Regions from separate parts of the Homo sapiens genome. Here region 2 is linked to region 1. Evidence: fine-mapped expression QTL. A gene starts in region 1. The other region holds a variant in brackets. All regions are shown on one strand. Distances are from middle to middle. Region 1 holds the start of CHSY1 (chondroitin sulfate synthase 1). Region 2 overlaps CHSY1 (chondroitin sulfate synthase 1).

The links. PIP is the estimated chance that this variant, and not a neighbour inherited with it, causes the effect.
Region 2: its variant is the best candidate, but not a certain one, in a credible set for the expression of CHSY1 in whole blood (INTERVAL, PIP 0.81).

Annotation. Positions count from the first base shown.
Region 1 is chr15:101,250,374-101,254,641 of GRCh38, forward strand. It overlaps CHSY1 (chondroitin sulfate synthase 1), which reads right to left and starts at 1,675. Exons shown (of 3, transcript NM_014918.5): 1 at 764-1,675. The coding sequence starts at 1,083. RefSeq lists silencers at 660-1,089, 1,280-1,589, 1,760-2,139.
Region 2 is chr15:101,204,344-101,208,611 of GRCh38, forward strand. All of the region lies in intron 2 of CHSY1 (chondroitin sulfate synthase 1), which reads right to left. Among named protein-coding and RNA genes, the nearest start is that of CHSY1, 46 kb to the right of the region's middle. RefSeq lists a silencer at 1,386-1,551. The variant G/A (reference allele first, on the strand shown) is at 1,764.

The sequences.
Region 1 (4,268 bases):
ATCATCTCCCTTCTAGAGACTACATTGGCTAATCCCTTTGTTAAACCTGAACACAATTCCAGCTGCTTTTATGACTCATTTGGCCAACTAGAGCCCAGTTACTGGATAACATGCATACACCACCAAGCTGAACTAATTAACACCAGAATGCAGTTTTCCACTGAATCTACCAAGGGCCAAGAACTGCTTTTCCCCAAGGTTCTCTCTCTCTGTACTCAACAGACTGGTGTGGTCCAATATGCTGCGGGCATTCTCTTTCATTTATAGGAGTGCCTCCAACTGCGAAATGTGAGAGTATGATGTGGAAAGGTTCTAGAACTAGATTAACGTACACGGGCTCCAGCTTTGCAAGGACAAAGGTGCACATTTTAGGGAATCCAGTATCAGCCCCAACTGCCTCCACTATCAGGTACTGTGCTATGAGTTTTCCAACATTATGAGGGAGACCCGATCTGTCGGGCCCTTCTAACGAGAAGCTTCGATTTGCAAAGGCTAAAGTGCCTTCATCAGGGTGAGAGGTACACCCAGCGAGGCCACACTAGTCCATCTGACCCCAAAGGCCATGTTCCTGAGCGCCGCGCTCACCATCCCGCCTCTGATCTTTTCTCCCTCGGCCCGGCGTCTCCCGAGAGGCAACCCGATCCCGCCGGAAGCCCAAGAAGGGCCTAGGAAGCGGGCGGAGGCGAGAGCCAGGAGAGCACCCGGGATGCCGGCCGCCGGGATGCCGGACGCAGGAGGCGGTGCCCGGGGAGCAGGGGCTCACCTGTAGGCGGCCACGGCCCGAGTCTGCAGGTATTTCTGGGCGGTCATGACTCCCACGAAGAGAAAGTTCCTGTCGCGCGGGCCGCCATCTGGGTCCGAGCCGGGCGGCCAGAGCTGCGCCCCGCGCGCATCGCCGCGCGCCCCGCCGGCCTGGGAAGCCGCCGCCTGCCCGGACCGGCAGCCCTCGGGGCTGGCGCGGCGCCGTGGGCCCGCTCGCTTCAGCTCGGAAGCCCGGGGCAGGACGAGCCGCGAGGCCAGCACGAAGCCCAGGACGAGCCCGAGCAGCACGCTGAGCCAGGCGCGCCGGCCGCGCGCGGCCATGCCCGCGCCGCTCCGCCCGCCGGGCCGCCGCCGCAGGCTCCGCGCGCCCTCAGCCCGCTGCCCCCGCCCGCGGAGGCCAGCCCGCCCTAGCGCCGCGAGGCCCGGCCCGGGCAGCGCCGCCGCCGCCGCGGGCCCGCCGCGCCCATCGCGGCCCCCGAGCCGCCCGCAGGCCCCGCGCCGGCGCTTTGTTCCGCACGCCCGCCCCCGCCGCCGCGGCCTGCGCCTTTAAGAGGGGACCATGCCCGGCGCGCGCTAGCGGCGGCTCGGGCGCGAGGTGGCGGCGGCTCCTCCCGCTCGCGCGCGGGGACGCGGGGCCGGCACGACGGCGACGACGGCGGCGGCAGACGAGTCCGGGCTCCCGTCCCGCCCTGCCCGCGTCCTCCGGCTGGCTGGGCTCGGTTCGCACGGCGCCTGTCCCCGTCCTCTTCGTAGCCGGCGCCGCCGCCGCAGCTGCACATCCTCCGGCTTAGCTCGCCATTGCAACAGGAGCCCCTCACGTCACGCACGGCGCGTTATGAAGTGGCCCCGCCGGCGGCGAGCCGTGGCCCCTCTCGGGATCCGTCCGCGCCGCGCGATTGGCGCAAAAGTGAATGAGGGGCGGTTCACGTGGCCGAAGTTTGACCAAAAAAAAAAAAAGCCCTCTCGGGCGCCCCGCCCGCGCGGTCTGCGACTGGAGCTGGCGGGCGGAGGGGGCGTGGGCCCCCGCCCGGCGCCCGCGGGGCCGGAGCTGCCCGTGATCCGCACCTAGCACCCGGCGCAAGGGCGTCCCCGCGAGGACGGCCGCTTCCCGCACCGCGGCGCCCGGGCGCGAATCTCGGGAGCCAGCCTTGCAGTGGGGGCTTCTCGGCCCCCAGACTCCACGCTGCGCACGTTCCTCCCGCACGGGCCGTCCTCGCTGCACCCCACGGCCACGCCCTTCCTGCCGCCGGGCCGGCCCCGCGCTCCCGGCCCCGCGCTCCCGACCACACTGCAGCTTTGTCCGCAGTCCCGCGGCCGCACGCAGGGAACAGCCGTCCCGGAGCCCTGGGGACGTGCGCGCCTGCGAGTGGACCGTGAATTCAGTTACCTTGTTCCCTGTTGCTAGTTTCTACGCTAAATAAGAAGAAGAAGAAGAAAAAGCCATCTTTAATACTTAAGGTCCACGCTTCTCATACAGTACTAGCATTTAATGGATCTCGAAGACAAGGAAAATGAAGTTAATGCCCTGGATGGTAAACCCTACTTTCATTTACATACTGTGTGGGCAGATAGCCGGCTAGTACCCCCAGCCTGGGACTTTGTCCCTACTTTAATATAGTCCGTCTGTAAAAGTGCCGTGGATTTCTAAAGACGGATTTTGGGTCCCAGATCCTCTACTCTGGATTTTAAGTTTTATACATTTCCTCTGCAATACTTCAGCTAAGGCAGCAAAAGCGGAGGTCTCCATACAACGAAAGTTTGTGTAGAGTTTCAGTCTTGTTACTTAGTCACCAGTATATTGGGGTTTTCTAATGAAACTTTTGAAGGGCAAAGTGTTTCCCTGGGCCTGAGAAGTTACCTGCATTGAATCAAATAAACACATGCCTGGGGCAATCCTTGGATCTTTCTTCATTGTTGACCAAATGGTTGAAATACTATCACACAGTTTAAAATGCCTGTGGGAGCTTCAGATACCTTCTCGGCACCTGAATGGTGGTCACTCTTGTTTATTCTTTGGATATTACCACTTTCTTTGACACTTGTGATTTATATTAAAAATAGTTCATTACCTACCTTCCCACAGAGCCCCTCCCTAAGGGGTGATCCACATCTAAAAATAAAATACTCATTATGCAGTGAATACAGGATTCCAGCAGTGGTCTTGGGAAAAATACAGAACATACAACCATGAATTACAGGCTCGAAAACCATCGAAAAAGGTTTCCACTAAGACCATAAACCACAAATGCCGAGGAGTCACCAGATCCCCCAAATTCAGCAGCCCCATCATTCACAGTGATTTACATGAAGTACGAATCTGGCCAGATTCAGATGTTCAATTTTGTAGCATATTCAACGATTTCAGTATTTTCTAACCTGCTTTAGACTTACCTAGTTTTCTTCGAAACTAGTGTCCAGTGAAAAGCTGGCCGGGCGCGGTGGCTCACGCCTGTAAACCCAGCACTCTGGGAGGCTGAGGCGGGCGGATCGCCTGAGGTCAGGAGTTCGAGACCAACCTGACCAACATGGAGAAACCCCGACTCTACTAAAAATACAAAATTAGCCGGGGGTGGTGGTGCATGCCTGTAATCCCAGCTACTCGGGAGGCTGAGGCAGGAGAATCGCTTGAACCCGGGAGGTGGAGGTTGCTGTGAGCCGAGATCGTGCCATTGCATTGCACTGCAGCCTGGGCGACAACAGCGAAACTCCGTCTCAAGGAAAAAAAAAAAAAAAGTATATAAATATCTGATGGGAATAATATTCTGAGGATGCCAAATATTTTGTCCTCCTCAATATCCTGGTTCCTAGTTGTCCCTCAGTTCCTAGGTTAACAGTCTCACCTGTCTCACCTGCAGGCTTAATGGGGGTCTTTCGTAATGTAGAAAGGATACCCTTTTCTTTGTAAAGGCTGAGCCTGAGGGCTTACAATTCCCTGGAGAAGGAGAGTAAGACATACGGGAACTCCCTCTGGGAGAAGAGGGATATGCCAGGCCAAGAGAGGGTTGGAAGGAGAAGAGAGAAACTGAGGTCCTGTAGAAGTCTGCCAGGGGCAGGGACCAATTCCGGCATGCAGCCTAGGAGCAGGAGGGCAAGCTCTAGCACATCTGGAAGGAGCAGCTGGATTGTTGAGCTGAGGCAGTTCTCCTGGGGAAGAATCCAAAAGTGTCCCAGTAAGGGGCCTGGCTCAGGAGACAAGGCTATCCTAAGTGGGGATTTCACAGCCAGTAGCAAATACCTGGAATCAAGAACTTCAGTGACAGCCAGAGACCCAAACAGCTGGACAGGACTGGTACCCCCAGTATGAAGGCCTGTCCCATGCCCAGCCCCACTAGTCAATACCAGCAAGGAGCCAGGGAGGACAACGAGGGTCTGGAACATCTGCCCCCAATGCACACACATGCGTCCTTCCCCACAGCCCCCTGGAGGCCAAGGCTGTCCTCATCCTAAAGCCCCCTCACCCTAAGTAATTTTTAAAGGTAAGGAGTAGGCAGGGTGATTCGCATTTA
Region 2 (4,268 bases), 46 kb before region 1:
GAATCACTTGAACCCGGGAGATGGAGGGTGCAGTGAGTCGAGATCGTGCCATTGCACTCTAGACTGGGCAGTAAGAGCGAAACTCCATCTCAAATAATAATAATAATAATAATAATAATAATAATAATGTACACTTATAGAGAAAATGATAAAGCTGATGTGGTAAATATTAATAATCAGGGAATTTGGGTGAAAGACTTATAGGAGTTTTCTATTAAGTTAAATTTTTTCAAAATAAAAATTGCCCCCCAAAAAACAGTGGTTAAAAATGACCATCCAGCTGGGCATGGTGGCTCACACCTGTAATCCCAGCACTTTGGGAGGCCAAGGTAGGCAGATCACTTGAGGACAGGGGTTCAAGACCAGCCTGACTGACATAATGAAACCCCATTTCTACTAAAACTACAAAAAATTAGCTGGGGATGGTGGCACACACCTATAATCCCAGCTGTTCAGGAGGCTGAGGCACAAGAATTGCTTGAACCCAGGAGCCGAAAGTTGCAGTGAGCCAAGGTCACACCACAGCATTCCAGCCTGGGCACTAGAACGAGACTCCATCCCCCCGCCACACACACAAAAAAGACCATCTGGCAGAGTTAAGAATACTGTCACTTGGCGAAGATCATAGTAACTAATTTTTCGCAATACTACATACTCTATCCACCAGCAAATCATGAAAGTATGGCTAACAGATTTCTAAACAGCTCTTTAACTACTCAGAGAGATTTTCAGAAGCATAAAGCAAGAAGTTTTTCCTCTGTAATCTATTTTTATTAAGCTTAAAGTTCTAATATTTTATCTTTTTTTTTCTTTTTTTAAAGTAATCAACATGGCAATACCTCATATGCTTGAGGTTTCCTGGACAAAACCCTATTACTATTTCTGTCTCTAATTCATCCTTTTTGCCTGCTGTGCTGTGGGCATGACATCAATTTATTATAACCAATAATTTCCAGTGCCTCCCAGTCACTAAATTGCCACCACACACACATGATTCAGAGGAAAGAAACTAGAACCAGCATACTCTTCAGTTGTTTAAGAAAAAGCCTGGTCTTTATATTTCCCCATTTATATAAACAAGCTAGTAATCAATTGACATAGACTCCACAATGTTTCCTGATAACTAGAGAAAACACACAGGTCTACCAGATGTTTATAGCTACTTGTGAAAAGACACATACCCAAACCTGAAGAGTACTGTGATCACAAAACTGAGCTTGATTTTTCTACTAACGACTATTAGTATTAGCAGCCTGACATTTAAACACACAAACCCATACATGCTTATTCTGCTCTAAGTGAAGAATTTTAATTTTGAAGATTGTTGGCCGGGCGTGGTGGCTCACACCTGTAATCCCAGTACTTTGGGAGGCTGAGGTGGGTGGATCACGAGATCAGGAGATCGAGACCATCCTGGATAAAACGGTGAAACCCCGTCTCTACTAAAAATACAAAAAATTAGCTGGGCGTGGTGGTGGGCGCCCGTAGTCCCAGCTACTCAGGGGGGCTGAGGCAGGAGAATGGCGTGAACCCAGGAGGCGGAGCTTGCAGTGAGCCGAGATAGCGCCACTACACTCCAGCCTGGGCGAAAGAGAGAGACTCCGTCTCAAAAAAAAAAAAAGAAGATTGTTTATTAATTTGCTCTACCCCATGATCCTGGTATGGTAGTGTTTTCTATTTCAAGTTCCTATAGACAGTAATACGCTCCATCACTAAGGCAGCAGGATTCCAGGACATTTGATTTTTGATATATGCTTCATAAC[G/A]TTTGCAATACTAAATGAGAAGTTTAATTTCAAACTCCAATCTCTGTCTGCTCTCCTTTCTCTCCCCGGGTGAGCCTCTGAGGCGAGAGGTTTGATTCAGGAGATAAGACTAGGGCTGCACAGGCATGGTGTGCCTCGTGCGCCACGGAGTGAAACTAGACAGACAAGGGAAAACCCACCAGGTCTCGAGTCGGCAGGAGAACCAACGACCAGGTATTTGTTTCTAAAGACTCATATGATCCACTGAAGAGAACCACTGAGTCAGAGGCAGGGGTGGAGGTCGCAGTGAGGGAGGACATGGCACACTACCCACAGGCAGGGGTAGCAGCTCCCACTGTGGGGTTAGTCATCAGCTGGGGCTCTGAAGGCGGTGACGTGCTAAGTGACAGATCACCACCAAGATCCGTTTCCCATGAAAACACTTTGGAAAGAAGCTTTTATGTGGGCTCACTTTATACAAATAACACTTCAGAAAATAAACGAACACTCATTAAATTATGCACCAAAAGAAAGTAAACTGTGGAAGCTAGAAGAGACAGCAGTGTTAGATATTAATTAATAGGCTACAGAGAAGAAGAAATACATTTATCATCTGTGAGAAAACATGTAGGTTTGTCATTTTATTTTCCCTACACAGAAGCAGCCATAATGGCAGAGAGAGTGAACAAATATTCCCAGGGTTTTGGGGCACAGCCTAAAATAGTCCTCCAAAAAATACCAAATTTCTTTTCTCATTTTTAATCATAAAAATTCACACTAATTTGCAATGATACTCTAGGACACCCATGTTTATCTCATAAAAAAAGTCTCTCTCCCAGACCTCAGGTAAAATTAATGTTCTAGGAACGTATGCCACGCATTTCCACTGGCTATCCAGTACCACTCTCGCGTGTCAGCACATTCCAAAATTAGTTTAATTTAAAAGAAACAAGACCAAACAAAACAAAGCCAAAAGGAAACAAACAAAACCTAAAAGGGGAAAAATCCTACTAAGATAACTGAAACAAATATTGTCTAATATATTTCTCAGAAAGGGTCTACTCTTGACAAATGTTTTTTATATTAACACAGCATTTGCAGTCAAAAGAAAAATAAGCCACTCACTATCCAAAATGGGAATAAAAGTCTTTTCTTCTATACCTCATTTTTGGAAATAAAAAGTCTTTGGCTGAAAGCAAAGGAAAGAGTTACGTCCACATAACCCTTCAGAATGGGAAGAATCAGCGTCACCAAGTCTTCACTTCGCCAACTAACAACAGTATTTTAAAAATTGTTCATTCTGATTTTTAGAACCAACTCATGATGCTGGCTATCTGTGAACAACAATACCTTCTAGTATGTTATATAATATTTCATTTCAATGTTAACAGGATATTTTTCTTAAATTTCCAGGTGCCTCTCTCATATGCTCTGTATCTGTTAATTCATCAAACACTCAAGTGCCTCATATGTTAACCTCTAAATGGAATACAGAAATAATTAAGACAAGACCCAATCTACTAGAAAAAAAAAGTTGAATATTTGGCACAAATAAACACTCAAAGAAAATAGATCTTCCAGAATATACTATCCAAGCAAATATTCAGTCTTGCTAAATTTACCAACAGGTTTTTAAAATCCTCTGAGAATGAGGGCTGCGTTGCCATGTGACACAGGTAGTACCTGGAATCTAGTAACTAAAATTGAAAAGCTTATTTCAAGATGGAGTTAGGCTTCTTGCCCCTGCCCCACCCGTTGTCCTGAAGTAAAAAGCCACTAGTGGGGTCAAGCAAGATAGGGTCCCCAGATGGGGTGAGGGTGGGCTGGTGCAGTGGCCCAGCCTTGGGGCGTCAGGTAGGCCGCCAACCCTTGAGTTGAGTCACATAGGGAAGGCACCGGGAAGGAGGCATTGCAACAGAGGATTGCTCACTTACAGCGGAAACTGATGCAGTAAGTAAATGTGGCTGAGGCCAATGAGCAGCTAGATTTCTCAACTGTCAAATAAAGCAATTACAAATACAGAAAGGGAGAGAAGAGGAAGAACCCTTTGGGGTTGAAATGGGATTTGGAGTATCAGGGGGAACCCAAGGACACACACACACATGCACATTTTCCCCTGGTCAGCCCACTGCTCAGGAGTGGGCCAGCCAACACCCACAGCAACGAGCACACCCACAGTCTAGATCTTGGCTTCTAAATGTTTTCCACTAAAAAGAACCAGAGACTCTTCGAGAGATGGCAGACTGCAAGGCTAGGGCAGGGAAAAAATAACAGCCTGAAACATCTTAGTATGCCAGAAAGAAATTGCTCAAACAGTTATAGGGGCATATCAAAAAGATACAGAAGGCCAGTCATGGTGCCTCATGCCTGGAATCCCAGCACTTTGGGAACCCAAGGCGGGTGGATCATTTGAGGTCAGGAGTTCGAGACCAGCCTGACCAACATGGTGAAACCCCGTCTCTACTAAAAATACAAAAATTAGCCAGGTATGGTGGCGGACGCCTGTAATACCAACTACTCGGGAGG